Regions from separate parts of the Homo sapiens genome. Here region 1 is linked to region 2. The links come from fine-mapping of genetic effects on gene expression. Tissue or cell type: monocytes after LPS. Region 2 holds a variant in brackets; the other region holds the start of a gene. All regions are shown on one strand. Distances are between the middles of the regions. Region 1 holds the start of CDC42EP3 (CDC42 effector protein 3). Region 2 has its middle 35 kb from the start of CDC42EP3.

The links.
Region 1: it holds the start of CDC42EP3, and the variant in region 2 is fine-mapped to the expression of CDC42EP3 in monocytes after LPS (Quach 2016, PIP 0.95).

What each region holds. Positions count from the first base shown.
Region 1 is chr2:37,668,946-37,673,332 of GRCh38, reverse strand. CDC42EP3 (CDC42 effector protein 3) reads left to right here and starts at 1,691. Exons shown (of 2, transcript NM_006449.5): 1 at 1,691-1,907. RefSeq lists silencers at 713-882, 1,103-1,172, 1,183-1,242, 1,413-1,902.
Region 2 is chr2:37,634,341-37,638,727 of GRCh38, reverse strand. No RefSeq gene overlaps it. Among named protein-coding and RNA genes, the nearest start is that of CDC42EP3, 35 kb to the left of the region's middle. RefSeq lists an enhancer at 2,835-3,064. The variant C/A (reference allele first, on the strand shown) is at 1,802.

The DNA of each region.
Region 1 (4,387 bases), 35 kb before region 2:
ATAAAAATACCTTTTTCTAAGTAGGCCAGGAACATTTAATATTTTTCAATAAATTAATATATAAAATATATACATTAGTGCCAAATGGAACATATATTTTGAAATATGAAACCCAAGTAAAATGCTCAGGAATCTGGAGTAGAATCCAGGTATCTGCCAAAGGAAACTTTGGACGAGTTGTCTTTTGAAGAAGGGAAACAATGCTGGGTCTCTTATCTTCACGGACTGTTTTTGCTTGTCAAACTTCTAACATCACTTCAGCCGAGTTTCGTATTTGACTTCCAACCTCATGGCCATTTGACCTGCCAACTACTATTTTTCTTTGAGGCTTTTAACACCCCACCCAAGTATTTTGCTTTCCAGATTGTGTGCGTTTCCTTTTCACTTCACCTTAAAGTCAGCCTGGGTTTACAACATCGGCTTAAGGCGCACCCTCTAAGGTTTCAGACAGACCCAGGGCACCGCGGTGATGACCTGAAGCTGATATCTCTCGGCAAAGCCAAGGTATCCGGGAGGTTCTCCGCGTTGTGCCAGGATTTCCATCCAACCCGAGAGTCTCAGGGCAGAGGCCAGGCCCCCAGCGTCCGACTCCCAGGGGTCCCAGCCCCCTCCCCTGGCTGACCATGCGGGCTGGGACCTCCCAGCCGGAAAACACCGCCCTTTCCTGTCGCCTACTCCTTCCCCAGGCCGACGACTCGCGGAGGAGGAAGAGACGGAGGCCGATTAAGAAAATTAGCATTCATTAACCCGGTTCACGCTCCGGCCCCGGCGGAGGGGAGGGGCGCGCCGGGCGGCGGCGCTGGCGGTGGCCGGGTGACCGGCGGGCGCAGGTGCCACCGCGGCCTGAATTTTACTCTCTCGGGCCGGCAGCTGCGCCACTTGCGCCTCGTCGCGCGTCTGGGGCAGCCGCCACCGGCTTGCCCCAGCTTTAGGCAAATCCTTTTGAAAGACCCTGAGGGAGAAGAAACGCCTCCCTCTGGGTAGGAGAACCTGTAGCGTCTGCTGTTCGTCGCGTGTCCAGTTGCTCAGCCGGGAGCTCCGGCATCTTCAGGGCGCTTATTCCACTCTCCGGGTTTTGGCTGCAGCTCTGAGGGGAGCGAGCTAGAAACTGACAGAACGCGACCCTCCCCCTCCGCGCCCACCGGAGCCCGGGCTGAGAGGGACCTGGGGAGCTGCGGCCTGGCCGGGGCGGCGCACTCAGGTGGCCTCGCTTCCCTGCGGGTCACCGCCCGCCACTCGCACAGCTAGGTCGGCCTGTTGGGATCGGGAGAGGTGGGCGCACGAGTTTTAGTGCGGGAGTCCGGGGTGCGGGCGGAGTCCTATTGTCCCCGTGCACCCGGGCGGCAGCACCTCCGGGTCCCTCTTTAAACCGAGCGTCCGGCGACCTTTCTTTGTGCTTAGGGAGTCGAAAGCGGCATCTTCTCCGAGAGAAGTCGCCTACTGGGGGGTGGCGCTGGGGAGGTAACAATGGGCGCCCATTGTCCTCCGAGGGTCCAACGGTGACCCCCCCCCGCGCGCGCGCCCGGCCACCGGTTGGCCCCGGGCCAGGGCACAGGTACCGCGGCTGGGAGGGTCGGCCCCGCTGCCCGCGCCCTCCGCCCCGCCCCAGTGAGTCCCCGCGCCGCCGGCCCCGCCCCGCGCCGCCCCGCCCTCCGCAGGTTCAGTCCTCGCGTCCGGCCGCCCCGCGCTCAGTCGCGCGCACCTTCTCTCGCGGCCGGGGGACCGCAGCGCGGGGCTAGCCCGGAGACCCGGCCACCGGCCTGGGGCGCCTTCACGCCGTCTCGGAGCGGATAATGCGGTGAGCAGGCACCACGCCGGCAGACTCGGCTGGATCTGCGCACAGCGGCAGGGATTGCGTGCGCCCGCGGGAGGCCCGGGGCAGCGGCTGGGATCCTCAGCGGCGGCCGGTGAGTCGGGGCAGCCCAGGGCTCCTTCCTCTCTACCTGTCTGTGAGTCTGTCCCGCCCGCGGCCGTGGCCGCTTCCGGCGTGCGCTGGTGTTAGGCTGGGAAACCAGCAGGGAGTCGGGATACCCAGGGCATCGCTTTCCCATCTAGTGTCCAACGGAACGAAGGGGACATAAAGCAAGCCAGGAGGGGGTCCGGCGGCACGACCAGGACTCAGAGCTCCACCATTTGTGCCCACTACTTTTCAGGGTGGGGCTGCGCGGCCACATTGCACCCTCCGAGCTATTGGCAGAGCCATTCTGGGCGCGTATAGCATTTTTCCATCTGAGAACAAGCCGCGCTTGGCTACCGCGCCCCTCGCATCATGGATTGGTACCAGGGCCGCACATGGGTGCATCGCACAGCTCTGCCGTGGCATCGCCTGCCCGGTGCCCTCCTCTTTCTTAATGGAGGACATTGTTAGTGGGGCGCCAACCTGCAGATCTGGATATTGACTTTTTTGTTTTTTGACGGTGAACAGCTGAGACGTTTACAAGGTTTTTTGTTTTTTGTTTTCTTCCCTTTCTCCTTGAAACTAAGTGGCTTGACACAGACAAGTATCAGACATGTGAGGATGAATGGATCTGGCCATTTTTTCGTTATGAATTATTATACTCTATCCCTCTCTCGACTTTGGGAGGCATGTGTTTCATCTTATAAATAGAAAGTAGCATATTTTTGGGCAGGATCTCCTTTATACTGTGCAGTCTAGGAGAGGTCAGTTTAAAAATAAATATGCACTTGAATGTTACATTACTGAGAGCCAGGCTGTGGCTGGGACAAGCTGCGTGGACAGCAGCATCAAAGCCGGGAGCGCAGCTGTGTTGAAAGGAGTAAAAGCCCCAGAGTGCAGCCTAGGCTGACAGTCAAGTAATTACATTTTGTTTAAAAAAAAAAAAAAAAAAAGTGAGCGAATTAAAATGAGGAATGTCAGGAGGGTATTGCAACATGAATCTTTCCAGCCCTGGCGTATTTGGAGGAGTGGGCTGCTGCTGTGTGCTGAGGTTGTAGGGGGGCTCTAGGGAGGGAACTGATGAATGTGTTAGGGAGACAAAGATTCCATCCCCATCTCCCAGCTCTTAATTCTCACAATATCCAAGAGTTTCTTGGGAGTACTGCCTTTTAAAAGGAACAAAAATTAGGAGAGCAGCAGATGTCTGTATTTTAATAGCAAAGCCAGTTTTAGGGACTTCCTGTTAACATCACAGGGAGAAAAAAGACTCACCAGGAACCAGCGATGATGCCCCAAAGGTATCCCTAAGACAATTTAAAAGGCTCCTGTAATGTTCTAATTTACACAAGCTCTTTCATCTTAAAACCAGGAAATGTACCTTCTCTTCTTTTCTGGACAGTTCCAGAAGTCTACTCTTTCATACCCCCTGCAATTTGTGTGAGCTCTTATTGGTAGTTAATAAGCTACACAGGTATGTGTGTGATGCATACCCTTTTCAGAATAGATTTAGACACTCAGAAATAAGTTGGAGTAGTTGTGAAATATTTAGCATTTTCATATGTGAAATAAATGATAAAGGCCCTTTCTATAGTCAAGGAATGGTTGAAATTCTTCATAAAGTCTCCCAAAGAATGCGGGTTTCCCAATGGGCCTCACCCATTTGAATAAAACAGCACCAGCCTCTGGGCTCACAGATAAGAACTTTAGAGGAGAAATTTGGAAGCATTTCTGGATCCATGGCAGTTTCTGTTTTCCAATGGCATCATCTGCTAGAGATTTACATGATGAATTCTATGATTAGAACATGGTGCTGAGGCTGTGGCAGCAGCTACAGGCTTGAAATGAGATGAGCTCCTCTTTCCCTCAATCTGAGCAGTGAAATTGTTTCACGTATCTCTATGGAACAAGTAAAAGCAGCTAGAGTAATAAGTGTTGCACACTTTTTGCTTTTTATTGCACATTTAAGTGCGGTGCAAGATGAATAAATACAAAGCCGTAACAGTGATTGCAGAAGGGCTCACATGAGTTCATTTGCCCTGTCTGCGCTCCAGCCTTTCCTTTAATGTGGTGTTTTGTTTTATGTCCAACATGCTCACAAAAGCTGTGCTTTTTTCATGTATAAAGTTCCTGGTATTCAACAGTGTTGGGGATAAAATTGCTTTCACCTGTATCACCCAAAGATTTTTTTTTTTTTTTTTTTTTAGCCAGGCCATAGATTTTTCACAAATTCTTTGACCATTAACTGTAACATTTATCCAGTGGGTGGAATATAATTCGTAACCTAAAAACCTCCAAGAAGACTGCTCTGATCGTATTATTATTATTATTATTGTTATTCAGATTCTTGCTTTCAGTCAGATTTTATCTAGGCCCAGTCTCATTTCTTACTAACCAGAATCCTGTGAACCTGTATTTCTTTTCATTGATTGAATGAGAAATCTATTTTTAAATGCAGTATGTTTGCCAGAGAACAAGGATAGCCATTTGAAA
Region 2 (4,387 bases):
CAATCTTAGATTAGCAGCCAATAAAGTCCTCCCATCCTAGTACCAGATCATGGCTCCTATGACTAAATAAAGCACTATTTGTGAAGCTTCAGTAATCGCCCTCTTTTTAAAAAAAAAATATAAAGAGGTAGGTTCACCGTTGATTAAAATTGCTCATTTTCAATACATCTGGCACTCTGGACTTCACAAACATGTTGACTATTCATCAGGTACCTTAGGTAACTGAGAGGAAAAATTGTAAAAGTGTCACGATAGCAAAACACAAGAAGCAGACCTGGTTGTATAAGTCCAGGGAAAATGGGACCTTCTTACCAGAGCCCACACTCCTGAAGACTCTTCTAACCAGAAGTAAACAAAGTATTCAAAGTGAAATGGCTTCCGGGAGTGGGATGCCCACCCCTCTTAACCAGCCATGAGATAAAAATGCATGGGAGAAACTTCTTCCAACCCCTGGATCATCTGAAACCTCACCTCCCCAGGGAGACTCCTTGGCTCCCTAGTCCCCAGCCCCTCCCCTCAGGCGAAGGTCATGTGGGAGGACAGAGCCAAGGCTCTAGATTATGGTATGAAGGGTGTGATCTTGTCTGAACACACCCAGCAAAAACATCTTTGTGTCTCCTGCCCTTGCAACAAGGGCTCTTTTTGTAGGTCAGCTGTTAAACATCAAATGATACATCATTTGTTTAAACATCAAATGATATATTATGAACAATACTCCTGTGGCTGGTGGAATAATGGCCCCCAAGATAGGAGATTCTAATGTCTGGAACTTATAAATGTCACCTTATTTGGTAAAAGGGGCCTTACAGATATGATTAAGTTAAGGATCTTGAGATGGGGCATTAGTCTGGATTATCTGGGTGGACCCTAAATGCAATCACGATTGTCCCTATAAGAGAGAGGCAAAGGGAAATTTGACCAGAAGAGGAGTAGACAATGTGACCACAGAGGATGGATTGATGCATCCAGAAATCAAGGAATGCTGCCAGCCACCAAAAAGTGAAAAAGGCAAGGGACAGATTTCCCCCTAGAGCCTCTGGAGGGAGTACAGCCTTGCTGACAGCTTGATTTCGGCCCAGTGACACCGATTTCAGACTTCTGGCCTCTAGAACTGTGAGACAATAAATTTCTGTTGTTTATAGCCACCAAGTTTTTAGTAATTTGCTAAAGCAATTATAGGAAACTGATGCAATACCCAAGCACTGGAGAGAATACAGAAAAATGGAAAACGTTAAGGATAATGAGGTGGACTGAACTGTGTTCCCTTAAAATTCATATGTTGAAGCCCTAACCCTCAGTGTGACTATATTTGGAGCTAAAGCCTTTGAAGAAGTAATTAAGGCTGAATGAGCTCATAAGGGTGGGACCCTAATTGGATAGGACTCACGTCCTTATAAAAAGGGGAAGAGACATTAGGGATGCACACACACAGATGAAAGGCCATGGGAGGACACAACAAGAAGGTGGCCATCTGCAAGCCAAAGAAAGAGGTCTCAGGAGAAACCAAACCTGCTGGCACCTTGATCTTGATCTCCAAAACTGTGAGACAATTAGTTTCTGTTGTTTAAGTCACGCAGTTCATGGTACTGGCAACTGCAGCCCTAGCCAACTAATACAGAGGGTTAACAGGGAAGACCCCCTTGAAGAGTTAGGTTCTTTAAGGAGATAAGGCCAGGATGACCCCACTTCCCAGGACTTTAGTCTTCCCTTAAGGAGTTTACACTGATTTAGTGGTGCTCTGGCTGGTGACAAGGAAGAGGAGAACATTCCAGGCAAAGGATCAGCAGGAGAAAAGTCTAGC[C/A]CTGCATTAACATTACAAGAAAGCATCTCCCACTACCAGAGCACAAGAGAAAGCTGCTTTCATGTGGCACAGGTTCAAGCAGGGTAACAGTGTCTAATCAGACACAGGTGTGTTGCCTGAGCCCAGAGGCTAAGTAGACTACCTTTAGGAGGGTCACTGTCACTCACAGTTGATCACTGGGGCATAACTTTAATCAAGCGTATGCATGGTGGGCAGACTTAGGGGAGACGGGGGGAAATAAAATATTTAAAACATGTTTTGAGGCTTGTTTCCAGCCCCAGACAGCATTTGATATGGGCAGAGGCCAGATTCAATCCCTGTCATCCAGATAACAACAAAAGAGAGGCAGAAAAGACTGTAGAGAGGATGCTTCATTGTTGCTAGGGAGATTGTCTTCCAGGAGCTCTTTGCCTAAGAAGTGTTTCTTCCACACAGATGCCAGGCAAAGTTAAATAGGCCTTCCCAGTATGCAGAGGGCAAATTGAACAAGAGGCCAGAGAGTTTGCTGAGACCCAACAGTGATGCGGGGGGCGTTTAAATACCATTCAGGAAGCCAAGTGACAGAGAGACAGCCAATGTGCTGGAGGTGGGGCCCCATCAGGCAGTGCTTCCCATATCATGACAAAGAAAATTATGACATTGGGACAGCACCATGGGGAAATGAAAGGGCTGTTGTGGCTGGCCTGGGCCCCACCTACCTGCCACAGGTGCTGAGGGTACAATGCCTCAGTGTCCTCATAGCACATTTGACACCTAAGGTTTGTATTGTGGGAAGCCTCTCCTCAGAGTACATCATCTCACTGGCCCCTGGCTATTTACGGGACTACCCTGTAGCTCTCCTGAGGGCTCCGAGTCCTCTCTGAAGGCACAAGTGGGTGAAGGAGTGGGGATACCAAATGTCGCACCATGTGAGACATGACTGCCCTGGTGGCAGTGGGGGTGGCAGTGAGTGGGGCACAGCAAATCCTCCACCTCTAACAGGGGTGATGTGGTTTGGCTACATCCCCAGCCAAATCTCATCTTGAATTGTAGTTCCCGTAATCCCCACGTGTCATGGGAGGGACCCAGCAGGAGATAATTGAATCATGGGGGCAGTTACCCTCATGTTGTTCTCATGATAGTGAGTTCTCACAAGATCTGATGTTTTTATATAAGGGGTTTTCCCCCTTTGCACTTCTCTCTCCTGCTGCCACGTGAAGGACATGTTTGCTTCCGCTTCTGCCATGACCATAAGTTTCCTGAGGCAACCCCAGTCCTGCAGAACTATGAGTCAATTCAACCTCTTTCCTTTATAAATTACCCAGTCTCGGGTATTGCTTCATAGCAGTATGAGAACAGACTGACACAAGAGGTGAATAAACCCAGAGCAAACCCAGAAAGGCCTGGGAGCCCCAGGAGCCAACTGGTGATTTAAGAAAGAGCAGAAGTGTTCAGTGTGACAGAGATAAGAGAAGGAGTAGAACTGAGACTCTGCCTCTGACTACATGACAACAGTCTTTACCAGTCTCACTGACTGGGGGCTTCTGCAGAGAATATGCTCGAGTCCCTACCTCTGAAAAACAAACACAGCCCTGCCTCAAAAACGTGAGCCACTTCCACAACCTCGAAAGGGGCATTTACACCAATGTCTCCATTTGCTCACCTCACATTCACTGAGTCACTTTCCTCCAGATCTACTGCCACCGTTCACTGAAGCTGCGCTCAGCAGTCACCAATGAACCACCTTCCTAAAGTCACAGATGTTCCCCACCCTACCTCCCTTTCTTCTCTTCTCTGCAGCACTTGACTCTCCAGGGCACTGCTGCTCCTCTCACTCCCTTCTCTCTGGTTTTCCTTCTCTCCCACCAACTACACCACTGTGAATCCTTCCCGGTTCTTCTTCGACTACTGACCCCATTGCTACCACGCACCCTAGGGTCATTCTCATTCTTCTGTTTGGTGATGTCTTGTTTCAGAGCTTCAACTGCCATCTATTTTCTGATGACTCCCACATCTCTATCTCCTGCCCAAATACAACTCCTGGGCTTCAGACCTGAATATCCAGATGAGCCCTGGACATCTCTGCTTGTTTGGCCTGCCAGAACCCCAAATTTACCATATTTCAAATCAAGTTCACCACCAACAAAAATATGCTTCCATCCTCCTTCTCCTGTGCTTGTGAGTGACAATACCATCCAGCCAGCTTCTCAGGACAAAACCCGGGAAGTGACTCCTTTTTCCACACAACCCTCTTCTTTTGCCTCCTAAATATTTCTCATGTCCAATCTCTTTTCTCCAATCCCACTGCCACTGACTCCATTCAGGCCCTCATCATACCTTGCTTCTATTATATAGCAACAGCTTCCTAACTATTTCACTGTCTTTAGAATGACCCCTGCCAATGTTTTTCCTTTTTAATTTTGAGTGATGGGCTCTAAAAATATTTTTTAGATACTATATTTTAAAAAATATTTTAAGCTTCTCTAACTGAACATCTAAACCCATAAAGTCCCTAATTAACAACCTTCAGAAACTCTCCTTTACCATACAAAGCCCAAATTCCTAAACAGGTATACAAGGCCCTCCATGAACTGTTTGTGCTAGTGG